7 separate regions of the Homo sapiens genome follow, and regions 1, 2, 3, 4, 5 and 7 are each linked to region 6. Evidence: fine-mapped expression QTL. A gene starts in region 6. Each other region holds a variant in brackets. All regions are shown on one strand. Distances are from middle to middle. Region 1 overlaps MAP3K4 (mitogen-activated protein kinase kinase kinase 4). Region 2 overlaps AGPAT4 (1-acylglycerol-3-phosphate O-acyltransferase 4). Region 3 overlaps AGPAT4 (1-acylglycerol-3-phosphate O-acyltransferase 4). Region 4 holds the start of LOC124901455 (a long non-coding RNA gene). Region 5 overlaps AGPAT4 (1-acylglycerol-3-phosphate O-acyltransferase 4). Region 6 holds the start of AGPAT4 (1-acylglycerol-3-phosphate O-acyltransferase 4). Region 7 has its middle 39 kb from the start of AGPAT4.

What was found. PIP is the estimated chance that this variant, and not a neighbour inherited with it, causes the effect.
Region 1: its variant is the best candidate, but not a certain one, in a credible set for the expression of AGPAT4 in monocytes after LPS (Quach 2016, PIP 0.76).
Region 2: its variant is the best candidate, but not a certain one, in a credible set for the expression of AGPAT4 in whole blood (INTERVAL, PIP 0.51).
Region 3: its variant is the best candidate, but not a certain one, in a credible set for the expression of AGPAT4 in whole blood (TOPMed, PIP 0.65).
Region 4: its variant is the best candidate, but not a certain one, in a credible set for the expression of AGPAT4 in whole blood (TOPMed, PIP 0.51).
Region 5: its variant is the best candidate, but not a certain one, in a credible set for the expression of AGPAT4 in whole blood (INTERVAL, PIP 0.88).
Region 7: its variant is the best candidate, but not a certain one, in a credible set for the expression of AGPAT4 in caudate (GTEx, PIP 0.63).

What each region holds. Positions count from the first base shown.
Region 1 is chr6:161,107,614-161,111,680 of GRCh38, reverse strand. It overlaps MAP3K4 (mitogen-activated protein kinase kinase kinase 4), which reads right to left. Exons shown (of 27, transcript NM_005922.4): 21 at 3,712-3,782; 22 at 2,822-2,938; 23 at 1,767-1,926. Among named protein-coding and RNA genes, the nearest start is that of AGPAT4-IT1, 52 kb to the left of the region's middle. The variant A/G (reference allele first, on the strand shown) is at 2,409.
Region 2 is chr6:161,156,185-161,160,251 of GRCh38, reverse strand. All of the region lies in intron 3 of AGPAT4 (1-acylglycerol-3-phosphate O-acyltransferase 4), which reads left to right. AGPAT4-IT1 (AGPAT4 intronic transcript 1) reads left to right here. Exons shown (of 1, transcript NR_024277.1): 1 at 1-138. Among named protein-coding and RNA genes, the nearest start is that of AGPAT4-IT1, 3.8 kb to the left of the region's middle. RefSeq lists enhancers at 974-1,473, 1,474-1,975. The variant A/G (reference allele first, on the strand shown) is at 1,800.
Region 3 is chr6:161,212,894-161,216,960 of GRCh38, reverse strand. All of the region lies in intron 2 of AGPAT4 (1-acylglycerol-3-phosphate O-acyltransferase 4), which reads left to right. Among named protein-coding and RNA genes, the nearest start is that of AGPAT4-IT1, 53 kb to the right of the region's middle. The variant C/T (reference allele first, on the strand shown) is at 2,467.
Region 4 is chr6:161,137,738-161,141,804 of GRCh38, reverse strand. AGPAT4 (1-acylglycerol-3-phosphate O-acyltransferase 4) reads left to right here. Exons shown (of 9, transcript NM_020133.3): 8 at 2,185-2,383. LOC124901455 (a long non-coding RNA gene) reads right to left here and starts at 2,189. Exons shown (of 2, transcript XR_007059860.1): 1 at 1,339-2,189; 2 at 1-727. The variant C/A (reference allele first, on the strand shown) is at 1,581.
Region 5 is chr6:161,184,567-161,188,633 of GRCh38, reverse strand. All of the region lies in intron 2 of AGPAT4 (1-acylglycerol-3-phosphate O-acyltransferase 4), which reads left to right. Among named protein-coding and RNA genes, the nearest start is that of AGPAT4-IT1, 25 kb to the right of the region's middle. RefSeq lists enhancers at 2,135-2,675, 1,732-2,931. The variant T/C (reference allele first, on the strand shown) is at 1,937.
Region 6 is chr6:161,271,945-161,276,011 of GRCh38, reverse strand. It overlaps AGPAT4 (1-acylglycerol-3-phosphate O-acyltransferase 4), which reads left to right and starts at 1,951. Exons shown (of 9, transcript NM_020133.3): 1 at 1,951-2,074.
Region 7 is chr6:161,310,567-161,314,633 of GRCh38, reverse strand. No RefSeq gene overlaps it. Among named protein-coding and RNA genes, the nearest start is that of AGPAT4, 39 kb to the right of the region's middle. The variant C/T (reference allele first, on the strand shown) is at 2,012.

The DNA.
Region 1 (4,067 bases), 160 kb after region 6:
AAGCCTTATTCACAAATTTTAATAAAAAGCAACAAAATTTTAACACCAGTGCAGGTAGCCTTGACCAATAAATTCTGAACTGAAATACATGCATACATTCTAACATTAATAACCCACAGAGATACTTAAAAAGAAACTGCATACAAAACACAAGTGCTTGTTGTGGTGGCAGTCTGGAGAATGAGAGATGTGTACAATCAGCAGCGTCTGAAACAGGAAGCGACATGTAGATGAGAGCTGCACACGCACTGCAGTTCTTCAGAGTCCCAGCTGAGGCCCTTGCATTTATATGACGTGACTGAAAACTGTTCTGCAATTTTCAAATATTCCTACAAGCAACATATATGCTTAACTTGTAGTCTAGTTAGAATTTGGGAATACTGTTCATCTCTCAGGACAGCTTGGCCTTTTGCTCTAGGCTGCAAGATATTATTGCTCCAACTAAGTCACACATCTCTGGCATTGTGTTCTATGGTACCTCCTTCGAAAAGCAACAACACAGAGCCAATGGAGTTAGACAAGCAGCCATCTGATGAGCTGAGGTCAACAGCGAATCCTCATAACTCAGTGCTCCTAGAGTTGATGCTCCCCACAATTGACTACGAGGGGCAGCTTGATCTTCTCGAGCGACTGTACATCTGTACCTTCTTAGCCATGCTGAACTAGAAAGCATTGGATAAGACACCAGTGAGCTGACCTGCTTCAGATTCTAAGGGAGTCTCTTCCTGCCACGGAACAAACGTGCAAACACCATTTTGTGACAGTGGACAGAGACTGAGGATGGTGTCTGTGGCAGAACGACTAGAAATAGGCAGTGCTACGGCCTGGTACAGAGCCAGTTAAGCCAACATCAGGATGACCCCAGACACCAAAGCAAGGTAGCGGACAGGCAGGCAGCCAATGAGACCGGTGTATGCTGGGTGATTCAGGGTGAGCCACATTACAGAGCACGAACAATGCTTACACCCAGACCAAAGCAGACTGGTGTAATCCAAAATAACCTCCCACACTGGGTCTTGTCCCTGGTCAGAAGTCAGGTCGGTTCCTAAGTTAATGTGTTTAGGTTAGCCTCAGACTACAGGACAGAATGAAACTCTTCAGCCTAGGGCCAAATAGGCACAAAAATACTTCCCCATTTTAATTATCCTCAAGACTTGCAAATACAAAGGTCAGGGGCATGGCGTGGTTAAGGCAAATGCCACGGTGACCGTTCTGAGACAGAAGCCCAGCTATTCCCCTCGTGCTATGAGAAGAGCACTTTTAATCCATCAGCATGGCCAAAATAACCTTCAGCAGAACTCAATTTCAAGGTTTGTGTAAACAAACCCCATTCTTGTCTCAAAAACGTAGCCTCAAATTTATATGTGCACTTCTGATCTGATTTACTGTCGGTTTACATATTCATGATTTTCATATATAAATAGACAAGAATCCTGACACGAGAGAAAAAAAAGGTTGCTTTGATCACGAATGTCTGGTAAGTACACGGGCTATGCCAAATCAGCTTATAAAAATAGCAAACTTCATTTTGGGAAAACAGATTTCTCTAAAAGCAGTGTTGAACAGAAAGAGCGGACTCCTGGGTAGAGAGACATGAGTTCTACCTTGTTTCTGAATACAGGATCCTTATAGAGGCGTATTTCAATGAAAGGTATTTCCATCTAGAGAAATCATATGTGGGAATGGGATGAGCGTCTTCAGAGCACCTCCCACGGGCTGGGTACCAGTGGCTCTGGCCCACAGCAGCCAGGCGGGTGTGGGATTACCTTTAATGTCACGGTGGACTATGCCATGCTCATGGAGGACGTTGATCGCAATGGTGATCTGCTTTGAATACAGCCTAATCACATGTTCCTGAAGTCCCAGCCTTGACACCTCTTCTAAAGTCCCCTCATCGCAGTACTCCATGAAGATGTACATTTCTTCCTGTGGGAGGAATAAAGGGCAGCTCTGTGTTTACGGTTTTCCTTAGATGTACGCTAGTGAAAAATCTGGAAAACTTCCTAGGCCACACCCCAAAGGAATGTTCTTTCTAACGGTATACTACACTTGCCATCCTGAGCACTGAATGTGTCTCACAACAGTCGTTTCTAAGTCCTCTATAGAGGTGTCTGCCTGCCTCCTCTGTCTGGAATTATACAGCTCTTGGGGATAAGAACATCTCCAAATCACAGGGGATCAATTTCTATTATCCTCTGAAATTAAGTCTGCTATATAATCTCAGACAGGGACCAACAGGGCTGTCCCTACAAATACATTATTAAGTACTGAAACACATCCTTTTTAAACATAATTTGTAAAAACATTAAAAATGATCCATTTCCAACTTCCCCTGGAAGCTCATGCTCTACACCACGATGCTCCAAGTTATCCTCTTTCCCTCGACGTGTTTATTTCTAAACACAAGG[A/G]GGAAACTCAATTTGAGGTTTGAATTTTCTCTCATTTCACAATGGCTCCCTAAATACATACAAGAAAAAAACCAGTATTACTTAACAGTGTACTCAACAGTGGTTCAGCAAAAAAACGGAAAAAAAGTCACAAGAAGTGGTGTAAGGGGCGTTTTAGAAGAATCTTCTGAATGGCAGGATGGGTTTCAGTGCTTTATGATGTCGGGTTAATGACTACAGTCTACAACTTACATTTTAGGAGGAACTCCTCTAGTTTCAGAGAGAAGGCAGAAATGATGTAACTCATGGAGATTTCCTGAGAATTAGGCAAAGTTACTGTGCTCTGAAATGAGAAGACCTGTGATGTAGAACAGGACTCCATTCTGTGCCCTCACTGATTCCTCACACAAAGAGTGGCATTAGGGTCGGCTTACTCTATGGAGCTCCACACCAAAATACCGAACCAGATTGGGGTGTTTGATGCCTTCGAATATTTTCAATTCGTCTGCAGTTTCCTTGATAGTCTTATGGTCATTAGGTTGAAATCGAATCTGTAAAGTGAGGTGACAAAAATGTTAACTGGCTTGATTTAATCACTCTACATTATACACATACACTGAAACATCATTTTGCACCCCATAAATATATGTAATCATGATTTGTCAATTAAAAACAACAAAAAATTAAGTAAAAAGGAAGTTTTTAGCCAAGCTAGAGTGAAGTCATAGAAGTGCGGGTAGGTCCCGGGCACAGAGGAGGAAGAGGCCCTGCTCCGAGAGGGAGTGAGGAGCGCCATGTGGAGGAGGACGCGGCTCCACGGCAAGTGCAAGACGCTGGAGCCTCCCCTCTCCACTCCTCTCCTCCTTCCACGTCAAACCGGATGTCTCCACAGACAGCAGTGAGTCCTGTTTCTACTTCAGGTTCCCTGGCCCTTTCCCCATCCTACCTCCAGCGGTTTCAATGCCACTTGTTTCTGAAGCTTATCATAAATGTTATCTTCTCCCCCAATGTGTCCCCATAAGACACTACTGTTAATCCTCTCCTCTAAGCCTTCATCAGACTCAGCTCTGCCACCCTCATAGGCCCTTCTCACACCTGTGCTGTTAGAACTGTCTGTGACTTATTATCCTCTCTGGAATCGTAAGCCCCTTCACTGTCTGTGTGTGTTATCTCAGTGCATCTGCCTGGTTGGTCCTGACTGTCGCAGTGCTGGTGCTGAAGACAGCTCTACGCACAGAGAACTGAATCACGACCAGCGTCTATACGGAATTTCTATCACCCAGAGCCGCCAGGCCCAAAGGCCCCACGGAGCCAGGTGACTCACCTCTTTCATGGCCATCAGCTCCCCGGTGTCGACGCTGATGCAGGTGTACACCTTCCCATACTGGCCTTCTCCTGTGAACAATGCAAACAAGCTGCACTTCCAGCCACTGCAGGGGGCTGTCTTACATTCCTTAAACTTGTAATAATACTGTCCAATTATTTTGGACGTATATTTATATATCTATAATTATGTTTACTGCAGTTTACTATTGCAAGATCCAAAATTTTTCTAAATGTTCCCTGATAACTAAAGTTTTAGGCAATCTCTTTAATATGTCTTACCTACAAGTATCTTTAAATAGAGCAGAACCGACTTTGGTAAATTCCAGGAGAAGCATGAAAATGACCAATAAAAGC
Region 2 (4,067 bases), 120 kb after region 6:
GGCAAGAATGGAGTCTAATCCCAGCACTTTGGGAGGCCGAGGCGGGTGGATCACCTGAGGTCAGGAATTTGAGACCAACCTGGCCAACATGTTGAAACCTCGTCTGTACTAAAAATACAAAAAAAAAAAAAAAAAAAAAAAAAAAAATTAGCTGGGTGTGGTGGCAGGTGTCTGTAATCCCAGCTACTCCACAGGCTGAGGTGGGAGAATCGCTTGAACCCTGGAGGCGGAGGTTGCAGTGAGCTGAGATTGCACCACTGCACTCCAGCCTGGGCAACAGAGCAAGACTCCATCTCAAAAAAAGAAAAAAAAAAGAAAAGCCAGGTTTGGTGGCTCACACCTGTAATCCCATCCCAGCACTTTGGGAGACCTGAAGGTCAGGAGTTCGAGACCAGACTAGCCAACATGGTGAAACCCCGTCTCTACTAACAATACAAAAAATTAGCCAGGCACGGTGGCAGGTGCCTGTAATCCCAGCTACTCCGGAGGCTGAGGCAGGAGAATCGCTTGAACCCGGGAGGCAGAGATTGCAGTGAGCTGAGATTGTGCCACTGCACTCCAGCCTGGGCAACAAGAGTGAAACTTCGTCTCAAAAAAAAGAGAATGGAGTCTCTCACCTTTTGATGAACACACACACACACGCACGCGTGCACACAAACTGATTCATTATTTTGAGCTCCAGTCTTTTCTGCATTTTGCTATAACTAGGGACAGATTTCAGAGATTCCAGGCCCATACCATCCTCTCTTGCACACACCTTTCTTGCCAGAAGGGGTCTGTACAACAACTTACTGGCAGAGTTTAGTGGCAGAAGTGGAACACAGAAACTGAAAGCTTTCTGCTTCTCCCTTCCCACTAGACTCTGGGCACCTCAAGGCCACAGGTAATCATAACCAGCATTGAGTTCTCGGCACCTGCATAATGCCTGGCATAGGGGGCTTCTTAATCAATACCTTTGCACAGACAGAGCAGCCTTGGGTTGAAGATTCCAATCTGATGCGCTTATGCACCATACATCAGAATGGAGGCTGTGCTATGGGGAGACTTGTGGGGACCCTGGAGTGATAGGGCTGGATGGCTTGTCTTGGCTCCAGGGAACTGAAACATTTGCTACAGTGGCTCCAGCTGGTAGTCAAGAAAACAGTCAAAGGACTCAAAGGCAGGCTGTTTAGCCTGCTTTATTGTTAAGGAACATCTCACCTGTTTTTGAAGTTCCACTTAAGATACCTCATTTTATATATTTAGTAGAAATAAATGACCTTGGCTCACTTGACTAACTGGTAACCCTACTGGGAAACCTTCATGAATGACTGGACGTTTGCAAACAAAGCTGGCCATAGAGCCTCAGCCCCTGAGGGGTTCCTTGCTGGTGTTAGTGGGGGTGGAGGCGGTGCAGGAGCAGGATACCCTGCTGCTCCCAGCCATGCTGCTCGCAGCACCGGGGTTTGGAATCTTCATCTGAAGCCTTGATGAGTAGCCATTTTGGAGAAAACCTTAACTAGAATGGCCTCATTCCGATCCCTTTTCACCCCAGAGGCTGTAGAGCTTCTGAAGGTCAGGGTCAGAGTACTGGGTCTCAGGCCCTCTCTGCGTCAGCTCTTCCCAACGTCCAGGGTCTCTGCAAGGGCTGGCCCACTTGCCAGAGATGCAGACCAGGTCATGGGGCTGGCTGCTTCCCTGAGCTGTGGGGAGCCTCAGGATGGGTCGCTCAACTAGATTAGCTCCAAGCACCTGCCCTAAGACAACTCTCTCTTTCACTCTCTCTCTCCATAGTGGTTTACTCCACGTGAAAATTTTAG[A/G]TTGTCTAAATATGCTTGTATCTAGACAGATCTGTTGATACATCTAACTCATCAGTAAATCCTTTCACGTTGACCTGTGAAATAAATCCAGAATTGATGAAATTAGTATATTTTCTTGTACATTCTCTCTGAAAGCTGTTGGCATCACACATGGAAGCCTCTGAGTGGCCTGGGAAAGCCATGATAGTTATAGCCTATTGAACCTTTTGCCGGGGGAACTGTCAGTATGTCTTAATAGCAGTTTCTAGTCTCTTTGTCATAAGTGAGTTAACTTGGGCAACTGTCTGTGCACAGTGACTCTTCAGTTGTGCTTAAATAAATGTAATCTATTGTTGTTACTATTACGCTAAAGCATGGCAGAGAAAATGGGTTGAATAAGGAGGTGTTCAGATACTGCTTGCTCTGGGATGAAAATAATAGCTACAAGTTATTGAACGCCCATGTCAGAGTCTCAACTTTGTGCTTTTGTAGATGTTTCCATACATTATTCAGTCTTTACAGGGACACCAGGGAATATGTGTTGTCTTCCTCATCACACAGAGGGGAAACAGAAGCTCAGAAGGATTGGGTGTCTTGAGCACAGTTACACAGCTGGGTCGTGGTAGAGCCTGGTTAGAAACAGGACTGTCTCATTCCAGAGCTTTTCATGCAGCCCTGCCAGGGAAAGAGAATTGAGTGACATTTCTTCAGTTTGAAGAAGTAAAAGCTTCTACCTTAATATTTTAACATGTTTCTTACCAAACATAGTTAACATCAAAACCTAGACATATTGATAACATCCAAAATTTTAAGGCTGAAAGATGGATTAAGCCAGTATAAAGAAAGTTATGTCTCTTCTTTTCCCTTTGATCATCAAAAACACCTGTTACCCCAGCACTTTGGGAGGCCGAGGCAGGCAGATCACCTGAGGTCAGCAGTTAGAGACTAGCCTGGCCAACATGGTAAGACCCTGTGTCTACAAAAAATACTAAAATTAGCCAGGCATGGTGATGGGCACCTGTAATCCCAGCTACTCAGGAGGCTGAGACAGGAGAATCACTTGAACCTGGGAGGCGGAGGTTGCAGTGAGCCAAGATTGTGCCATTGCACTCCAGCCTGTGCGACAAGAGCAAAACTCTGTCTCAAAACAAAACAAAACTGTTTCTGACCCAGAGCCTCACTTATATTCCCAAAGCAGATGGCGAAAGCATGCTGATGTCAGCCCCTTCTTAAAAGTGACATTGTTACAGGGATACTGTGAAATATGTTTACAATAAAAAACTGGAAAATCTAACAAAATAAAAATCACTTGTAAATGACTGCCCAGTGCTGAGACCAGCTTGGTCAGGCAGACCCTAACCCAGCGGTGCTAGAGGAATTAAAGACACACAGAAATATAGAGATGTGAAGTGGGAAATCAGGGGTCTCACAGCCTTCAGAGCTGAGAGTCTTGAACAGAGATTTACCCACGTATTTATTAACAGCAAGCCAGTCATTAGCATTGTTTCTATAGATATTAAATTAACTGAAAGTATCCCTTATGGGAAACGAAGGGATGGGGTGAATTAAAGGAATAGGTTGGGCTAGTTAACTGCAGCAGGAGCATGTCCTTAAGGCACAGATTGCTCATGCTATTGTTTGTGGTTTAAGAACACCTTTAAGCGGTTTTCCGCCCTGGGCAGGCTAGGTGTTCCTTGCCCTCATTCTGGTAAACCCACAACCTTCCAGTGTGGGTGTTATGGCCATCATGAACATGTCACAGTGCTGCAGAGATTTTGTTTATGGCCAGTTTTGGGGCCAGTTTATGGCCAGATTTTGGGGGCCTGTTCCCAACAGCCCAGCAACAACTACTGTTGTTTTTCTCTGCTTTACTTTTTTCATAAAGTCATAATAATGCTATAGACTCACCTTTGTTCCAGATCTTTTAAAAATTTAGTATTATACAGTAAACCATTGCCTAGCCATTACACAGTCATAGAAAACAAGTTTTAGTGGCTCTAAATTAGGCTCTAATTAGTGGCTCTAAATTTAGTGGCTCTAAATGTCATCTGGAATGGGCCAGAGAATGAATATTTTAGGTTTTGTGGACCACAGCGTGTCTGTCAAAAAACACTCCTGTGTGTAGCGTGAAGGCAGCTGCAGACAATAGGCACATGGACAAGAGGCTGTGTGGCCACAGGACGTCACTTACAAAAGCAGGCAGAGGAGCAGGCTTGTCCCGAGGGCAGTAGCTTGCTGACTCCTCTCTAGTGTTATACAAGATCTGGTACACACCATAACCCACGTGAC
Region 3 (4,067 bases), 59 kb after region 6:
AAATTAAGACAGAAGCAGGGATTACTGGGTGATAGGTTTGGCTGTGTCCCCACCGAAATCTCAACTTGAATTGTATCTCCCAGAATTCCCACGTATTGTGGGAGGGACCTAAGAGGAGGTAGTTGAATCATGAGGGCCAGTTTTTCTCGTGCTAGTCTCGTGATAGTAAGTCTCACGAGATCTGATGGGTTTATCAGGGGTCTCCGCTTTTGCTTCTTTCTCATTTTCTCTTGCTGTCGCTGCTTAAGAAGAGCCTTTCGCCTCCCACCATGATTGTGAGAACTCCTCAGCCATGTGGAACTGTAAGTCCAATTAAACCTTTTAAACCTTTTTTGGTTTCGTTTCGGGCATGTCTTCAGCAGCAGTGTGAAAACGGACACTGGGGAAAATCATCTGAATTAAGAGAGTGCTGGGGTGGGGCCTGGGGCGTCGGGGCTGATGCTGCCCCAGCATTTTGGTTTCCACAGTGGAGCCCAGGGAGGAAGTTGGGAAAGAATGAGGAAAGAACGATTGCCCGGAAGCGTTTCACTGTCCTGAGGAGAGTGAGCCTGAAGATTGTAGAAGGCAGTTGCAGAGGTTGTCTGTCATCCTGGACAAGAGACGCACTTGTTGCAGACGTTTGCTTGAGGACAGAAGAGACTGGGGCTGCTGTTGCCTATTCTGTTTCATGGCTTTACTCTGAGAGCCCTGAAAGCATTGACCCTTTGCTTCAGTCATCCATTGAGTTATTCCCACCCAACCCCAACGTGGGTTCAGAACCCTTTCAGAGACATCTCCAACTTGTATTTGTGTCTAAGAGTGTTAGTCTCCTTTGTCAGACTATGAAGAAGCCTTGTCAAGGCAGGAGGGAAAAGTGCTCTTGGCAGCCTCACAAATCTGGCTTTAGCTGAAAGGTATTTTTTGTTTGTTTTCTTTAATCCTCGTCAACTGGACATGGTGCGGTTAAGAGAGGCAAGTATGTGTGAGCCTGGACAGCTTTCCAGCTCTAGGGGCAGAGGAGGTTTGATAGCCCTTCATGGCAGGGTGCATGCGAAGAGTTTTGCTTGCCGGCATAGATAAACTTGACTATGTCTGCTCTACTCAATTTGATGTATAGTTTGAAAGGTAATGCTGTATTACGAATAAAATAATGGGTATATCTACCTAAAAAGGAGAAATTACAATGGGTTGGTGGCTGGTAGGACTTTTAGAGTTTGAGCTATCAACAGGAAACTTGGATCTTGTGTTTTTGTGTTTTCTTTTTTTTTTTTTTTATGGTAAGGGAGGTTATTCTACTGTGTGGTTCAAGCAGATATACCCCTCAGCCACTGCAAGGATATCAGTGTTTCAAGCATGTGCTAGGCTTCAGAATATAAAGACTAGAATGTTTTAGGTTCAAAAAGAGCTTGTTATACATTTAAAATATGGGTTTTGCCTGTAATGTGTGCCAGAGAGACAGACCTGAGAACCACACTCATGCTGAAGGACCAGGATATCTGAACCTGATTACCGAGCATGAGATCAGGGTGAGTCACTGTCAGTCTGTGTTTGCTGGGTATATGCGTATGTTTTGTAAATCCAAGAGTATGGGAAATGGCAGAGAAGGAATGAGCCATGGCCTCAAAAACCTTGAGATTCAGCACAAATATGTCCGCTGGGATGTGTAAACATTTTCAACCCACAGATACGGGGAAGCTTAATTCTACAGAAACATTTGCTAACTAGGCAACAGATTACAACACATGCAGTGTATGAGTTATGGAAGAGTAGGATCATAAGTTAAATAGGGTCATTAATGTAGCTTGCCAAATTGTGAAGACTCTTGTAATAGTATTAAAATTGTACTCAAGCCTATAGAAATGTGAAGCATCTAGACAGTCTCTATGGGGTATTTAAATAAGTATTTAAAATGTCACATAAAAAACATAGCTTGTAGTCCTACCAAAGAAAAAATTGTTAGTATGAAGCTGGATATGGTCTGATTTTTTGAAACTGCAGATGGGCCTGTTGCCTTTGTCTCAGTCTTATCTAAGGCAGGCCAGCAGAACAGGTTTGGAGGTCAACGTAGATAGTTTTGAAATATAGTCACGTGCCCCATAATGACTTTTCAGGCAGTAGACCACATTTACAACGGTGTCTGCTAAGATTGTAATACAGTATTTTTGCTGTGCCTTTTCTATGTTTATTTTATTATTTATTTATTTATTTATTTTGAGACGGAGTCTTCCTCTGTCACCCAGGCTAGAGTGCAGTGGCACGATCTCGGCTCACTGCAACCTTTGCCTCCTGGGTTCAAGTGATTCTCCTGCCTCAGCCTCCCGAGTAGCTGGGACTACAGGTGTGTGCCACCATGCCCAGCTAATTTTTTTGTATCTTTTAGTAGAGACGGGGTTTCACCATGTTGGCTAGGCTGGTCTCGAACTCCTGACTTCAATTGATCCGCCTGCCTTGACCTCCCAAAGGGCTGGGATTACAGGCATGAGCCAC[C/T]ATGCCCAGCCCTATGTTTAGATACACAAATAGTTACCATTGTGTTACAGTGACCTACAGTATTCAGTACAGTCACATGCTGTACAGGTGAGCAGCCTAGGAGCAACAGGCTTCTGAAACCCCCAAAATTTGAGACAGGCCTCAGTAAATTTAGAAAGTTTATTTTGTCAAGGTTGAGGATGTGTGCCTGTGACACAGCCTCAGGAGGTCCTGACAACATGTGCCCAGGTGGTCAAAGCACAGCTTGGTTTTATACATTTTAGAGAGACACGAGACATCAATCAACAGATGTAACATGAACATTGGTTTGGTCTGGAAAGGCAGGACAACTCGAAGGAGAGGGGCTTCCAGGTCACAGGTAGGTGAGAGACAAATGGTAGCATTCTTTTGAGTTTCTGATGAGCCTCTCCAAAGGAGGCAGTAAGATATGCATTTATCTCAGTGAGCAGAGGGATGCCTTTGAATAGAATGGGTGGCACGTTTGCCCTAAACAGTTCCCAGCTTGAATTTTCCCTTTAAGTGATTTTGGGGGCCTAAGATATTTTCCTTTCACATTCCCCAACACCCCCACCCCCACTTTAAAAAATTTTTTTGGAGAAAGCATTTTAGAAGAAGATGAGTCTCTGTTCCCAGGTTTTGTCTGATCTCTCATGACTAGGATGGCTTATTCCTAGACAGGTAGGATCTAAGTTATTAGGAAAACTCATTTTTATAAGGTTATTCTATGAAGAGAAAATAGAGGAAGGAAGACAAACAACAACAAGCAAAAGAACAATCCTGGAAAAATCAATATAGGCCACATTACTCTGAAGCCCATACATCAGTAGGCAGGTATGAAAGTGGCTTATGTATGTAAATAGATTGTTGTCATTTTCTTTTGAAGTTTAAGTTGTCTGGCTTCAGTTCACAGGGCTTTACAAAAGCACAGCTTAGTTTTCAGTGACTCCAAATTAGGAAAAATTGGGAAAAAAAGGAAGGAACAAAAAATTGAAAACATTATTTTGAAGACTTGTAGCCCAGAAAACTTAGAATTCAGTCCAAACTGTAGAAAATAATAAAAATTGAAAAATGTAAGATAAAACTAGAATCTAACAACAGGTGTACTATAGTTTTGAAGCATAATTATTCTCTCTTCAGTTTCCCATTTTTACTAAAGACAAATCATGGTAGGACTGGTTTGCTTTATTATACTTGGCCTAATTATTTGTATACAGTGCAGCAAGAATAATTATTTTTACAAAGGCTTTTAAATTGGCTTTGATGGAACTGTGTTCCATAGGAGGAATCTCAGATAAGACTTTTTTAAAGCCGAGCCCAGCCATGGATTTGTGCCATCAAATACCTATGAGTTGGGTGATCAGCTCCTCTTGAGGTTCCAAGATAAACTTGAGGCTCCTGGACCTGCCAGAAAGTGACATTGTTTACCTACCACAGGTCAGGAACCCTGTGCAGGGGCTGTGTAGACAAAGGTATGAGGCCAGTTTTTTCCAAGGGGTTTTTATTGGCTTCATAAGTCAAGTTTGATTCCTTAAAGGAAAGCACACCATTACAGTCAAAGTCTTGGTAAAATAAACAGTTTCTCTGATTGTGGCCTGTTACAG
Region 4 (4,067 bases), 130 kb after region 6:
AGAGGTGCAAATAAAACAATCTTGGCCTAGCAAATGTCTTTCTGGAAACAAGACAGAAAAGGCACCATGGTGAGTTCCCCTTTGTGATATTACTGTAAAAAAGCACTATAAAGACTGTTAAGGAAAATAAATTCAAAAGCCACATTTGCCCATTTTTTAAAATGGGTGAGTTCTATGGCATGTAAGTGACATCTTAAGAAAGCTGTTTTTTTTTTAAAAAAAAACAAGGCACAAAAATATCACCCCCCTTGTCTAGTTATCAGGTGCCCTGTGGCCCCAACCTGGGATAAGAAAATCACCCCGTTCTGGTGGGCAGGCGAATGCCGCTGCTTCCCTGGCAGAGTTGGGTGCCACCTCTCTGGGCATTGCCTGTGCTGCTGACCGTCATGGTGCTCACCTCCTTGTCTCCTCCACCATCTGATCGCTCTCACTGCTTGAGGGTAGGAGTGCTTGGCACACACGTTGATTGTTCTTCAGTTGCTTGATGATGTGACTTCCCCTGAGAGCCCCCATGGCTTCTCTTGGCTGATGTCCAACAGCAGAGTCACGCGACAAGTGACGCTTCGGACCAGGCTTGTTAATGGGCTGCAGGGGGCCGAGGACAGAGCAGAGGCACCTGAACTGCCCAGGGAAGGGGTTGGGGGTTCTCCTTCCAAAATGGCCTAGTGTGTGGACTATTATTAAAAGTGCCTCTGAGAGGCCAAGAAAGCCTATGATTCAGTACACCCTGAATGAAAAAGAAGAAAAGTATGAGATACTTTAGACTTTTCTATCTCAAGTTGTTAAAGGAAAATATTCAGCATTTAAGTAGTATAAGTTTCAATTATAAGGAAGCTCATTTTCCAGAAAACTCGACTCCTTAGAGAACTGGGACATTACTAGGCTAGTTCATGGGACACAAACTGGGCCTCACTGTGACCCACACCCATTTTTGTGTGGCGTGCATGCTATCGGCCACGTGCAGCTTTTACAATAGCTGAGGCAGCTGCCCACCATACAACCTGGGCAATTCCCTGTGGCTGCCTGGTTCAGCTCTGCTCCCTGCAGGCAGCTTCTGCCCTGGCCCCTCCTCACGGCCAGGACCTGCCCTTAGACGGGCCAGCGGGCATCCTGGTGCCACAGCTCCTTGTTCCCCCCAGGTCCTGGCTCAGCTCAGCTCCCAGCCGCTTGAGCACGCCTGCTGACCTGGGTTCCTGGGTCCCTCCCTTGTGTTCAGCAGCTCCTTGCGGCTGAGCCCCAGTCCCTGAGCGGGAGCTCCGTGACATGAGACACCCAGGGAAGAGCCACCGCGTTCTTTCGCAGTGCATTTATGTGGGGCCGTGAGTCCCCTGTTCTCACCCAGGGACTGCAAGGAGCGCCATGAGGCTCTGGAGTAACTGCCCTGCAAGCTGCTCGGTGACACACACACCCTGTGGGTGGATGTGGATGAGTACATGGTTCCCACTAAGGATCTGCTTAGTGGAAGGACATGAGCCTGTTTGTTTACCTTTCACACGGTCTAACAATCACTTAGAAGAGTCACCCTGGACACCCAGTCCTGAGTGTGCTGTCACCTCTGAGAGCCACACCCAGCAGCCCTC[C/A]AGCCCTTTGTCATTCATGATGCCTTGAATCACGGCCCTCAGAGCCCTCCAGTGGCAAACAGGGTGGTAGGTGCGGGTGGGCTGCCCGAGGTGAACTGGCTGTGGAGGCCGGGAAGGCGGGGCATGTGCCGGGCCGGGCTGGGCGAGCTCCTCCTGACTGCGGGCCAGGTCTCCACCGAGTGTCCCCTGCGGGCAGCTTCGGCGCAGCATCCACTCCATTCTCCCGCCGACCTATCGTGGAAGGCACTGCTGCCCCATTAGACAGACTGGGGCCTGGGCTCAGGGATGCAGGTGCCTGCCCACAGAGGGTGGATCCTAGCCCAGGCTGGCCTGGCGCCAGGGTTCATGCTCCACGCCCTGCACTCAGTGACAGCTGCAGCGGCCCCACCACTCCCAGTGTCCCTGTGGGAGGGGCGGCCAGATGCAGCTTTGAGAAGACAGCAGCTGCCTACAAAGTGCTTTCTGGAAGGAGCTGCAGACCCCAGTTCTGCCGAGCCCCGGTGGCACCTGTGTATCTCTGCGATTCCCTTGGAAGCAGGGCCTCGGGAGGGACCTGCCACCGAGCCCCGTGTGGCGTCTGAGGGTCCTCTTTCCTGTCCCCCAGGATGCCTTTCAGGAGGAGTACTACAGGACGGGCACCTTCCCAGAGACGCCCATGGTGCCCCCCCGGCGGCCCTGGACCCTCGTGAACTGGCTGTTTTGGGCCTCGCTGGTGCTCTACCCTTTCTTCCAGTTCCTGGTCAGCATGATCAGGAGCGGGTCTTCCCTGACGCTGGCCAGCTTCATCCTCGTCTTCTTTGTGGGTGAGTGGAGGGCAAGGGGCTGGTGGGTGCTGACAGCACCACCCTGGGAGAGGTGGCATCAGGGCTGGGACGAAGGCCATCTGTATAGGCAGTTGTGCCGTGGATGAGGAGCAGGCTCAGCTTGCAATCACAGGGAAAGATTAGACTTCAGGATGAGTGCGAGGCCCTCGAATACCAGGCCTGGGACCCCCTCCGCAGCCTGGACGGTCCAGCCTCCCACCTGGGGCTGGATTCCACACGTTCCCTGTTGGGTGGTGATGCAGCTGCCACTTCACTCCCCGACAGCTGGGAGTGCTCCCTCCCTGTCCTCCGCAGACAGCTCTGCTCATTGGCATCATTTCCTGCTTCTGAAGAAAGCCCTGTGCTGGAGCCTGGCGGGGACGGATGGGCAGCTCCCTGCCTTCCTCTGGGGGCGCCTGTGGCTTCTCCTTTGCTGCAGGTGGATGACACTGAGTGGAGACACTCGGCGACAGAGCTTTTCATGGGTCTGCGCTGGCTCCAGGTGACCGGTATTCTCGGGCTACTGCTGCTTCTTGGTGGCAAGCCCCTGTGCACCCTGCTCCTTGCCTCTGGCGGGGCAGCCTGTCGTGCCTGCTTCCTGCCCTGTGAACAGCAGGTCCGTGCTTCCTGGAGCCAAGGAAGACTTTGGGGTTTCCCTGTGAAAGGCCCTGTCTCCCCAAGCCTGGCGTCCTCTGAGGCTTTGGAGAGCCCGGGAGAGACGGCACATTGTCCAAGCACACAGAGATCACGTGCTTCTTCCAAATGGACAGGACTCAGTTATTTTCTGTCAAACACAAAGATGCAGTATGCTCACTATAAAAGGCCCAAGCAATAGACAAGCGCAGAAAATGGAAAGTGTGTCAGGAGACCATTCCCATTGAGCCCACTTCCCAGATAATCGTTAATGACAATTTGATGCACGTGGTGGTTCCAGTCTCAAGCATATGTGCATCTATAAACCCGTATCAGTGGAGTTTCTTCAGCTCGCCTTTTCACCTAATGAATCATAACCACCAAAACAGGTCACAGCACATAAACCTAGCTCATTCATTCTGACTGAGCCAACCAATGCTGCAGCATATGGGTGCAGTAGACAAGCTGGCTCCTGTTCCTCAAATAGACCCTACTATACAGTCTTTTGAAAGATTAAGATGTATTTTAGTGTTAAAAATTAAAATATTAAAACAACACCCACACCGTGTAAGGGAAAAAAATAAGAGGTTGGAGAAGAAAGCACCTCATCTCCTTAAGGCAGGTCCAGGGGCACCCCCATGCCCCGCCATGCTGAGGCTGGCCAAGGGTCCGGGGCAGCTGCAGGTGCCAGGGCCCCTGGTAGGGCGGGGGCAAGCTCAACCCTTCTGCTTCAATAGCAGGCAACAGCAAGGCACACACACACCCACGCCGTCTTGGAGAGGGGCCCCTTCAGGATGAAGGCTGCAGACAGGGCCACCCAGCTGTGTAGCGAGTACCAAAAAAAGAAGCCTGAGCACTGCCCAGGGTGCAGTGTGGACACAGGGCGTCTCCAGGAGCATCTGAGGGGTGCAGTATGGACACAGGGAGTCTTCAGGAGCATCTGAGGGGTGCAGTGTGGACACAGGGAGTCTTCAGGAGCATCTGAGGGGTGCAGTGTGGACACAGGGAGTCTTCAGGAGCATCTGAGGGGTGCAGTGTGGACACGGCGTCT
Region 5 (4,067 bases), 87 kb after region 6:
TACACATGATTTTTTAGTATGTGTCCCAGATATTGCATGCCTCATAATGTCGTTTAGTATTGCGTGGGACATACTTATGCTAAAAAATAAAGTGTAATTTATCTGAAATTCAAATGTAATGGGGTACCTTGTATTTTACCTGGTCATCTTAATAGGGACAGAATATTACGTTGTTGGAAACACTGGGAAGTTTCACTTGAAACAAGTGATGTAAGGAGAGGATCTCAGAATTATCTGGTGACCTAATTTATCACAAGTCTGATAGAAAAATGTGCAATTTATACATAATCCTTAATAATTAAAAGCTGCTCTACTGAAAAAGTTGGTTTTCTACTAGAAGAGAGACAAAATTAAATATCCTAAGGCGTCCTAGGCTGAGATATGGAAGCAATCAATGTCCCATGTAAAGACAATGTTTTTTAAAAAACAGTGCCGGGATAGAGTCCCTTCCACATTTCTGCCTGTAAAAATTATTTTGGTAATTGTGTATATTTTAGCATCTTAATTTATCCATTTCAAAATTAGAAAGTACATATATAGCATTTTATTATATATTTGTACATATTAAAACTGCATTTTAATGTATACGTATTTCTCTGCTCTGTGGGTAATGAATTTGGATAATGAAAATCAGCTGAATTACATTTCAATAAGGGAAAGGTGAGAGAAGACATTAATTAGATGAAAATTTAGAGCAGGTATTTATCTTATGTAGATTTTACAATTTGCTTTAAATATTCCTAAACAAGTTAGTAATTTTATAATGGTGCTTTTAAAATAAAAAAAGTTGGGCCGGGCACGGTGGCTCACGCCTGTAAGCCCAGCACTTTGGGAGGCTGAGTTGGGCAGATCACTTGAGATCAGGAGTTTGAGACCAGGCTGGCCAACATGGTGAAACCCTGTCTCTACTAAACATACAAAAAAAATTAGCTGGGTGTGGTGGTGGACACCTGTAATCCCAGCTACTTGGGAGGCTGAGGCAGGAGAATTTGAACGCGAGAGGTAGAGGTTGCGGTGAGCTGAGATTGTGCCACTGCACTCCATCCAGCCTGAGCGAGACAGTGAGACCCTCCCTGTCTCTAAATAAATAAATAAATAAATAAATAAATAAATAAATAAATAAATAAATGGGCTTCAGGACCATACCATCCTTAACTGATTTTTGCTGTGATTTGGATCCTGGTGAATTTTTCCTTAGCTACACAACTGCTGCTGTCACCCATACTGTTGGATTCCAATATTTCTTGAGACCCATGGTTGGGCAAACCCTGCCTTGCATGCTGTGGGCAGCAACAACAACGAAATGAACAAGACAAGACCCTGCTGTTGAGGAAAGCACACTCTATGGTAGAAGAATACTGAACAAGACAAAACGTGCCTGTGAATAGAAGGTGAGAAAGAAAGTATGGAAGGCGGAGCAAGAGGTTCCGGGAAAAAGGTGACCACCAACATCATTGCCACTCACAGTTCTTTTGCAAACCTTAGTCTTCTCTTCTTAGATGTTCACAGCAGTTCTGTGAGTGATTATCATATTATTCCATTTTTACAGATAAAACAAAGTCAGCAAGGTTAAGTAATATGCCGATGTTATTAGTAAATCGTGGAATGGGAATTCAAATTCAGGTCTGACTTCAGAGTCTGAGGCTGTGTCCCTCGTGGGGGATTCAGGCGAGTTGAAGAGAGAGACTACTCCTAAGGGAGGTGAGGGGCAAGTGGGTGGTCTTATTTGAACTGAAACTTGGAAAACAGAAAAGGCTGGACATCCTTTAGAAAGGAATGGTCTTTTGGGCCAAGAGAACAGCTTGAGCAAGAACCCAGAGCTTGGGGTAGGTACAGAGAATTCTAGGTAGTTCCAGGAACAGCGTTGCAGTTGCTCTGGGCTTTAGCTCAGGAAGTGCGGTGGGGAGAAGTGGGGGAAGGAGAGGGTGGCCTGGAG[T/C]TGGGGCTTGCTGGGGAGCCTGCAGTCATCTGGTTGATCGTGCGGAGCCAGCAGAGGCGTCTAACAGGAGGAAGTGGCGGCAAGGCATGAGACTGGCATGCGGAGCGGGTGACTTTGGAGGCAGAGAGACTGGGTAGAAGGTCATCAAGAGGTAAGGAGGGCAGTGCTGGAGATGGAAGGGAGGACAGGCGGTGGTGGACATGGAAGATGTGGGCGGACAGAACCAGTGACGGCAGCGAGCCGGTGGACTGCAGGGGCCGTCGGTGGTGTGCACAGGAACACGAGTTGCTCTAAGTTGAAATTCTTGGAAACATACCATGTGGCTGCAAATAGAGGAGCCCTGGGAGACAGCAGGGAGGTGGCAGGGTTTCTCGTGGACTGCCTGTGCCTCGTTCCAGAGTCTGATTCCCAGATTTGTAGGCTAAGAAATGTGATTCATCATCATGTTAGTCAGGCTCTGATTCACTCATCTTAAGCATGAGTGTTCCAGGTTAGCCATCAGGAGACTGAGGCATGGGGGTTGGAGCTGCCCATAGTCAGTCAGCCTCCCAAGAAGTGGGGGGCTGGAAGGTCCAACCTCAGTGGCTTGACTGCTCTGCAGCCCAGAGTAGGCAATGAGACTTTCCTTGTTAATGGGGTGAGGAGAAAATGGAAGATTTCGAGAATTTCTCACTACTCCATGCAGTAAGCAAAGGAGGGGCAGAAAAGGGACTACTTTTACTCTTCGGGAACTTTAGACCTTTTAATCGCTTCAAATATAGTGGCATTGAAATGCAAAGTATTTTCAAATTGCATTGTAATCTTCATCTCTTTCAGAAATTAAAAAAAAGAAAATCCAGGCATGACCGTGATCTATATTTTAGGGATGAACAGTTTTATGCCATTTTTGTCTTTGTCTCTCTTCCGGCTGCTGCTAGAGAAGAGGCAGCGGTGCCCAAGCCAGGACTGAGAGGTTTCGGGTGATGCCTCTGCCGTGATGATCATTGCTTCCTGGACTTATTTTCTGTGGAAGAGGCAACTTGTTTCTTGAACTTTTTAATTAAAATCTATGTAAGAGTAGAGAGAATAGCATAAGGATTCTCCAAAGTCAAAGAATCTAGATTTCACTTTAAATATTTCATCCTACTGGCAGGTATCGAGTTGATTGATGAAAATGTAAAAATTGAATTCCAGACATTGTATGTCATGAAATATCACCCCACATTGTCATGAGATGTGTTTTATAAAGATTCAAGACATCTTGGCCAGGTGTGGTGGCTCAGGCCTGTAGCCCCAGCTACTTGGGAGGCTCAGGCAGGAGAATCACCTGAACGCAGGGGGTCAAGGCTGCAGTGAGCTGAGATTGCACTACTGCACTCCAGCCTGGGTGACGGAGTGAGACCCTGTCTTTGGAAAAAAAAAAAAAAAAAAAAAAGACATCTTAAAAACATAATCAGAATGTCATTATCAAAAGAATATAAATTAATGGCATTCTTAATATAATGTAATACCACCTATATTCAGATTTCTCTAATTGTTTCCAAACTATCTCCCTCTTGTTTTTTTTTTTTTTTTTAAACATTTGGAGTATTTACATAGGGATTTAAATAGGGCCCATACATTGCATTTCGTTTTTATGTCTCTGAAGTTTCTCTTAATTTAGAACAGACCCCCCGCTCCACCCAACCTCTTTTTTCCTTAATTTGTGAAAAGCCCAGCACTGCCTCGTAGAACCTCCTGTGCTCTGGGTGTGTGGGTGCTCATCGTGAGGGCGTTTAACCTACTCCTCCCTCTTGACCTGCCTGTAAACTAGAAGTTATGTATGGGTGCTTGATACTTTGAGTTTGACAGTTTTCCCAGGAATACTACACACACCACAGGTACGGTGTTTAGAGAACAAAATCTAAGGGCTGATGGTATTTATGGCTACCAAGCTCTCATTGCTCCTAGGCTTGATGTAGTCAGATTTCTAGTCTTGCCAAGTGCCCAGATGGGTGGAAACCTGGCAGGTAAACTGTCCCTGATGACTGACTGGGCATGGGCTGTGAGGAGACGTGCCACTAGGTGTAGGAGAGGAACAGAGGTGGACCACAGAGCCTGGGAGGAAGCAGGGACAGAGAGGCCAGAGGATGACAGGTGGGAATGGGGGGTC
Region 6 (4,067 bases):
TGGGCAACATGGTGAAACTTCGTCTCAACCAAAAACACAAAAAATCAGCTGGGTGTGGTAGTGTATGTCTGTAATCCCAGCTATTTGGGAGGCTGCAGCACGAGAATTGCTTGAACACAGGAGGTGGAGGTTGCAGTGAGCTGAGATCGTATCATTGCACTCCAGCCTGGGCAACAGAGCAAGACTCTGTCTCAAAAAAAAAAGCATAGGATTTAATCCATGAATTTTGAATTTCTATGTTAAATTTTTAGAAATAGTAACTTTTTCTCCCATATTTCTCAGCTATATCTGAGATAACTGGGACTGAGCAACATTGTCTAGACAGGCAAAGTGTTAGCAATAATAAGTATAATAATAATTGTAATGTAATAATGGAATGAGGATGTTAAAGTACTGAGATCAGGATAAAAGTTACAATTGTCCAAATTTTAAATTTCCTATCATTTCCACTGAAATCACTGACTGTACTTATAACATTATCAGGAATTTATGCAATTTGTAGGTTTTGAAATAAATTACCATTCAGAATTCAACCGTGAAAAACAGTGTAACTCTACTTGAAAAACACTTTGAAAAACTCAAGTTTCCACCAAATCTAGAAGCACATGGGTCGTAAAACATAGTTCGAAAAGTTACGAGAGATGATGACTACAAGGAACTTTTTATAAAAATCTTTTATAAGCATTACTCTGTGGTCAAATTTATTTTCACATGGATATTAAAACAAGTTATTGCTACAAATGGGTTTCTGTTCTGATCCTTTTTTTGTTTGCCTCACATATCCTTTCTCTTCCACCACATTCTGCTTCACTCTCCCCGTCTCTCATCACAGACAAGAAAAATGCCACCTCCCATAGGACCCACTCCAAACCCTGTTTCCTGAATGATCAATGCCTTCCCCCATCGCAATCAAAAAAGCACTTTCTATTCTGTCTTCATGACACACTGGTTTTGACACTTGCATAGCTGTTAGTAATTCTGCAATGTGCTTGGGCTATTTGTGAGCACATGTATTTTTCCTTTATAGATTATAAACATCTAAAGAACAAGGTTAACCCAGGAGTCAAGTAAATAGTTAAATATTATTTTGACAATGGCTGTAATAGTGGACATTTGAAAGGAATACACCTCAGTATTTTGAAATTGAAATAATTTTCTAGATCCTGGCATTTCTGGACTTTCAACAGCCCACCCTTTTTAAAAATTGTGAAGACACTTTTACTATAAAGGTCTGCCCAGACCCTCTCTGATACACCTGTGTAAATGCCACGTGCATGTGAGCATGCGACAGTACGTGTGTGCACGCCTGTGCAGTGGTAATCAACCATGGTGCTAAGGTTTGAAAACAGAAAATACATCAATCGACCTCCAAGCTTCTTTCATCCCACTTCATAACATCTCAATCTCTTGAGTGCTGAGGCTTATTTTGTTTAAGATGATTTGGACTCTTCTGAGTGCAACGCAATCTCCTTCCAGCACAGCGGACCGAGGAGAGGTGAGGGGAGAGTTTTGAGGGTGGGCATATTGATCCTACGCTTGCTGAATTAAAAATGAGCCAACTGAGGACAATTTCCAGGTTGCAACACAGACGGAGCCGGAGTCTGGGTTGAGGTTAGAGGAGCCGTTAGGGCGCAGGGATGCAACAGGATTTGGGAGAAAGGGGAGAGAAAGCAAGGCCACTTCCAGGGGGCTTTCATTTTTTTTTTATCCTGGCAGCTTCCCGAGCCAGATTTCAAAAGCGATTTCAAACGTGAAGCCAACTGAAGCACTGCCTTACACTAATTGGAAGGGGAAGGGAGTGACTCATATTACACCAGCTCGCTCTTCCCTCTCGGCAACTGCTAACTTGTAGCTTTAAAAGGAAGTGACATGGGTGGGGAGAGACGTCAGCTGAGGACCACTTTTTTTTTTTTTTTCTTCCTGAAGGGTCCACCCCATGGGTGGAGTCTCGCTTTTTCTTTCCAGTGTTGGCTGACTTACAGCTCTTATAAACTAGTGGCAATTTCTGAACCCAGCCGGCTCCATCTCAGCTTCTGGTTTCTAAGTCCATGTGCCAAAGGCTGCCAGGAAGGAGGTATGTGGTCCTGGTGCCGTTCGCAGGCACCTTCCCCGCTGGGTGTGGCTGATGTTTGCATTCCTCTTCCCAGCATATTTTTCTCTCCTGGGCTGGATTTCCTTAGGACCTCTGGAAGGGGTAGGCTCCGGGGGCGGGGGGGGAGTGCAAGGCGGGCGGGGGAAAGGTGCAGGGGGCGCCTGGAGGGAGGCGAAGAGAGGCTCTGCTGGTACAAAAGGACCCTCGCTTTGTGCTGGGCCGGGTGAGCGTCCCTTTCTGGGCTGTGATTTCAAGCTGCTGTTCCTGGCTTCATTTACCCACCCACCCAGCCCCCTCCCGGGGCTAAAGCATTTTCTCTGCTATAGACGAAGCTGGGCGGGGGGTGGTGGTGGGGGGAATGTTCCTATTACATATTGCTCTCTTTTGTGTCATGCAACATGTTCTTCCGTCGCTGACGTTTCTATGGCAACCACAAAAATACTACACAATATGCAGCCCCGATATACATTGATTTATTTGTATTTTGTGTCTAGTTTGCAGCTTTCTGCTCTGCTTCTTGCTTTGGTTTGCTAAAATCCAGCATGGCTTGTGGCTACCCCTCCTCACTTTCATTTTGGTTTTTCCCTATCACAGGAGGGGTGGGGGAGGGGAGTTGTCAAGGAAACAGGCATTGGTAATTACCTCTCTATTTACCTAATTTTCGGCCTATGAATTTCTCCATATCGAGGAATTAAAAAAAGAATGCTTTGATGTTTATGTAAGTCTTCAGTGTCTGGTCTTTTTTTAGAAAACCTAAACACTTCTTAAGATAAGATATTGATCCTGTGGTCAAGCTAAGGGGGAATTAATTCCTTACAGGAGGTGAGATCATTGAAATAAAGTTTTAGAGAGCATTGGAGAATTCGCACTGATAAATGTGATATTGCCTGCCCAGGTTTGCCTAAAAGCTTAAATATTTAAAAGATGGGTCTTTGCTCTCATCTGCACTTATTTAGCTCCAAATCTTAAGTTCAACAAGTATGAGTAACAAATTAACTGCCGGGCAGGATTCTCCGTTTTTCGTTTTCGTGCATTGTTCTTAGATGGATTAGCCACGCTATTCACTCTCTTCAAGGTGAGGGTTGCTAGACTTTTTCAAAACTGTGGAAGGATTAACTCATCTGTGATTAGTCAACGACTCTCAGTTGGAAAAAAAGTATCTTGAGAGAAGGGAGAATGTGTGTGTTTGTGTGTGTGTGTGTGTGTGTGTGTGTTTAGGGAAATGGGAGGCGGGCAGGGAGAACAGGGCACATCTTGAGTTCTACGTTAAAAGGATTCCATCTTCTGAATATTCTCTATGGGGAGAAAAACTGTTATTCAGAAAAAATATGAAATGAGAAAATTATTATCTACTTAGTAATAAGCAAAGTTAATTATAATTAGAATCAAATAACACATCTCTTAGAAAGACATAGCCTCTTAACAGGTACCGGCTAAACTGATGCTTTTATTCAGTACGTCTAAGGAAGCGTTTGATAAGGGATACCATTCTTCTGATGGGCATCCCAAATAATTAGCTTTTATAAAATAGATAAGTAGTAATCCCATTCATGACTCTTAAAATTATCTATAATTTAAGATAAACATGTGTGAAGGTCACTTAGCCCTCATACCTTCCGGCTGCTAAAGCCAAAATCATTACTTATAAACCTTGAGCAACCCTGCCATGTGGAAGCAGGAAGAATGGGTGGTTTCAGTGAGGTTCTGTTTGCTGTGATCCTTATCTAAATATGCTATCATCTATGTCTTATCAAATCTGCTATAAATCCAGAGGTCCTAAGTAATTCAGGTAGAAAAGTTACCTGAAAATGGGGCAAAATAGCATGGCACAAAACAAACCAGAGCCACATGGAGTTAAAGACGAGAACTATTTAAAGGGCATAACACACAGAAAAGTATTACTAAAAAGAATATGACACTCATTTTGAAAAGCACATGTTAGTACACAGAGAAACGGTTGGATTGTGAGCATCTG
Region 7 (4,067 bases), 39 kb before region 6:
GGGAGCAGCCAGAGAGGACAACACGAGTGGGAAGTGTGCAAGGGACCTTCAGAGGGGGAAAGGGAGGAAACAGGTCAACCTTCTAGAGCAGCAAGGCAAGACACCCCCTGGTTTGAGGGGTTGAGCCTTCCGCAAATTTCAGGGGGTTGAACCTCACACAAACCTCCTGTAGTAAGAAAAATATTCAGAACTCCCCTTTCCTTTCTTCTCAGGGAAAGAAAGAGTAGCTGCACTCCCACCGGTCCCTCCCCTAGGGGAAGGGGAAGGAGAGGGGAGAAGAGCAGCATAAGCGGCTGGCAGAGGCAGAGAAAGAGACAGAGTCAAAGAGAGAGAGAGGCAGAGAGAGAGAAAGAGACAGAGACAAACAGAGAGAGGGAGAGTAGTAAAGAGAAAACAGTGTACCCTATTCCTTTAAAAGCCAGGGTAAATTTAAAACCTATAATTAATAATTGAAGGTCTTCTCCCTGACCCTATAACACTCCAATACCACCTTGTTGCCAGTGTAAACAAGGTTGTAACCCAAAAGCCCTGAGGTGACTGACAACCCGTAGCCTTCCTAATCAAAAATCCTTAACCCAGTAACCCGTGGATGGCCCAAATGCATTCAATCTGTAGTGGAAACTGCTTCGCTAACAGAAGAAAGTAGAAAAATAACTTTTAGAGTAAACTTCATTGTGAGCACACCTCATCAGGTCAGAACTATCCTAAGTCAAAAAGAAAACAAAAGATAGCTTACTGACTCAAGAACCTTAAAGTATGAGGCTATTCTGTTAGAAAAAGATGATTTAACATGAACCACTGAAAATTCCCTTAACCCACCAGGTTTCCTAACAGGGCATCTAAATCTTAATTACCATACAAAGGTCCAACCAGACCTAGGAGGAACTACCTTCAGGACAGGACTGTAGATGCTTCCTCCTGGGTGATTGAAGGAAAAAGACACAATGGGTATTCAGTAAGTGATAAGGAAACTCTTGGAGAAGCCAAGTTAGGAAAATTGCCTAACAATTGGTCTGCTCAAACGTGCCTGCGAGCTGTTTGCACTCAGCCAAGCCTTAAAGTGCTTACAGAATCAGGAAGGAGTCATCTATACTAATTCTAAGTTAATATGGACTGAACGAGGTCTTATTAATAGCAAAGAATAATTGAAATCCCAAACTTACAAGGTTTTCAACAAAAGTAAAGTTTGCTAAAAGTTAAGAGTGTAACATGTATTATCCTAACGTCTAATCTTGTGGCCTTAGACAGTCTAGTCCACAGAAATGAAGGAAGTTCAATTTGGAAAAGAATGGTTATCATCTTTGAGAAAAAACAAAGGAGGGGGGAGAGAATTTATGTAAAAAGGAATATTATATGGTAAATTCTTGTCCTAAAATAAATGAACTGGTTGTTTAGAGAAAGGGATGTTTGCAACAAATCAGAAAGTTGAGGCATGTTGAAGAATTGTCTGTGAAAGTTATGGGAAAAAAAAGTTATAAAAGGGAATTTATGCAAGAAATGTTGTATAATTTAAAAGTAATTAGGCCTCCTGAATGTAAAACTATTGAAGAAACAGTTTATGTGTAAGGTGTGTAAGGAAAGTAAAACGTACTTTGGTAAAAGGATTATAAGGAGACATAAGAGTGTGGATTTTTACCTACATTAAATGGTTAAAAAAAAATTGTTTTAAAGGTTTAGGCAAGTTTTGAAATGTTAATTGAAAAGGAAATTCTGTGTGTAAACATATTGGGTAAAGTTAAAGGGATATCACCCAGTTTTTCTGAGAACTGGACATTAAAATAAAAGCACAACATGTTTTTCTTAAAGCACTAACCTGCTTTTTAACAAAAATTATAAAAGGTTAAAAAGCATCTATACAAATCTTACCATATGGTCAGACATTAAAAATTGGATAAATATGGCTACAAGATTTTATTAAAATTAACTTTAACATTAAAAACACACTAATGTAAAGGTGAAATTTAGCTTATCTGGTATAAATATCATACAGGAAGCATTGGCAAATATAAAA[C/T]GGTGTTTGGCTTTCTTTGGTCTAAAAAATAATAAAAATAGGTGCTAAAGAAAATTTCTCAGCAAGAAGGTGCCAAGGACTATAAAGTCCATTGCTGATGTCCCCACATGTAAAACAAAAGATCAATTTCTTAGAAATTATATACTTGGTTTATCTTCTACTTTCCTTTCCCTCAAAACTAAAAGTCTTTTAGCACAGGTACCAGCCCTAGAATTTCCGGTAAACCAGCACCAGCCTGAGGATCACATTCTCATCAAAGGGTGGGGAGAAGGAAAACTTGAGCCAGCCTGGGAAGGACTTTACCTTGTGTTACTAATCACCGAGACTGCTGTTCATACAGTGGAAAGGGGATGGACTCATCACACCCGAGTCAAAAAAGCACCGCCTTCTCCAGAGTCGTGGGCCATAGTCCCAGGGGAAAACGCTACCAAACTAAAGCTAAGAAAAATTTAACTCTTTCATCTATTCTATTACTTTTTCTTCTTTCCTCACTCTATTGCTGACCATCTAGTTATTAACATAACCAAGTCAATTTCGCCTCAAACTATTGCATTTGGTGCTTGCCTTGTTATACCCTGTGGGAACTTGCCAAGTCAGAGACAGCTCTCTACTTCAGAAAAGCACCTCTGTCCCTCCTGACTCTTCTCAGATTAGGCATTAGTGAACTGGGACCATTTAATCCGAGGAGATTTTGATAAAGACCCCGGCGTCAACCAGGAGTCTTGCCCTCCCAATGTACAGCTTTTATGCCATAGTTGGTCCAGCATTCTGTGGACCACTAAAGAGCAAGGATGGACCGCCCCAACCTGTTTTTGTAATTTCCTAAAACTGTACATTCATGTTACTAGAGGGACAGCCCCCCACTAAGTGTCAGCTAAACCAGTGCAATCCTATACAGGTTATTATCTCGAATCCTCAAACTTCTTCCCCTTTTCTAAGCCGGTTCCCTCCTTTAAGCCAGTTTTATGGTATGGGGGTTGAGGTTTGAGGGACAGACCCTATTGGATTCTTTAAAATGTATTTCTTTGATCCCGCACTGCCTGCACCTTCTTCTAAGCCTTCTTCCAAAACCTCTCACAACGGAATAATTGCTCCTCCTCCATCTAACCACAAGACCAAGATGGCTGTCGTAGAAGTTAAAGACTTAAAACAAGTATTGGCAATTGAAACAGGTTACCAAGTTGCAAATGCCTGGTTGGAATGGATCAGATATTCCGTCCGCACTTTAAACGAAAGCAATTGTTATGCTTGTGTGCATGGCAGGCCAGAGGCCCAGATTGTCCCCTTTCTAGTAGGGTGGTCCTCCAGTTGACCAGGAGTGGGCTGCATGATAGCTCTTTTCCCGGATCCTACAGCCTGGAGTAACAAGTTGTGCCATGCTCTCTCTCTGCTATATCCCGAAGTCCGGCATCCTATGGGCCAGCCCCTGAGGGCCATCCAGCTTCTGTCTCCCAACACTAAGTTAACTTCATATCTCTCACGACAGGGAGGAAACAGCATTCCTTGGAGACCTGAGGGGATGCAGTGAGCTTAAGAATTTTCAAGAACTTATCAATCAGTCAGCCCTTGTTCATCCCCTAGTGGATGTGTGGTGGTATTCTGGTGGACCTTTACTGGACACTCTGCCGAATAACTGGAGCGGCACTTGTGCTTTAGTCCAATTGGCTATCCGTTTCACCCTGGCATTTCATCAACTAGAGGAAGGAAAAATAAGACATCATAATGCGAGAGAAGCCCCTTATGGGTCTTTCGACTCTCATGTCTATTTAAACGCAACTGGAGTCCCACGGGGAATACCAGATCAATTTGAATTCCGAAATCAAATAGCTGCAGGATTTGAGTCAATATCTTGGTGGGTGACAATTAATAAAAATGTAGATTGGATAAACTACATCTACTACAACCAACAGTGATTTAGTAACTACACTAGAGATGCTGTTGAAGGAATAGCTGAGCCATTAGGGGCTACAGGCCAGATGGCTTGGGAAAATAGGATAGCCTTAGACATGGTATTAGCAGAAAGAGGAGGAGTTTGCATTATGATTAAAACTCAATG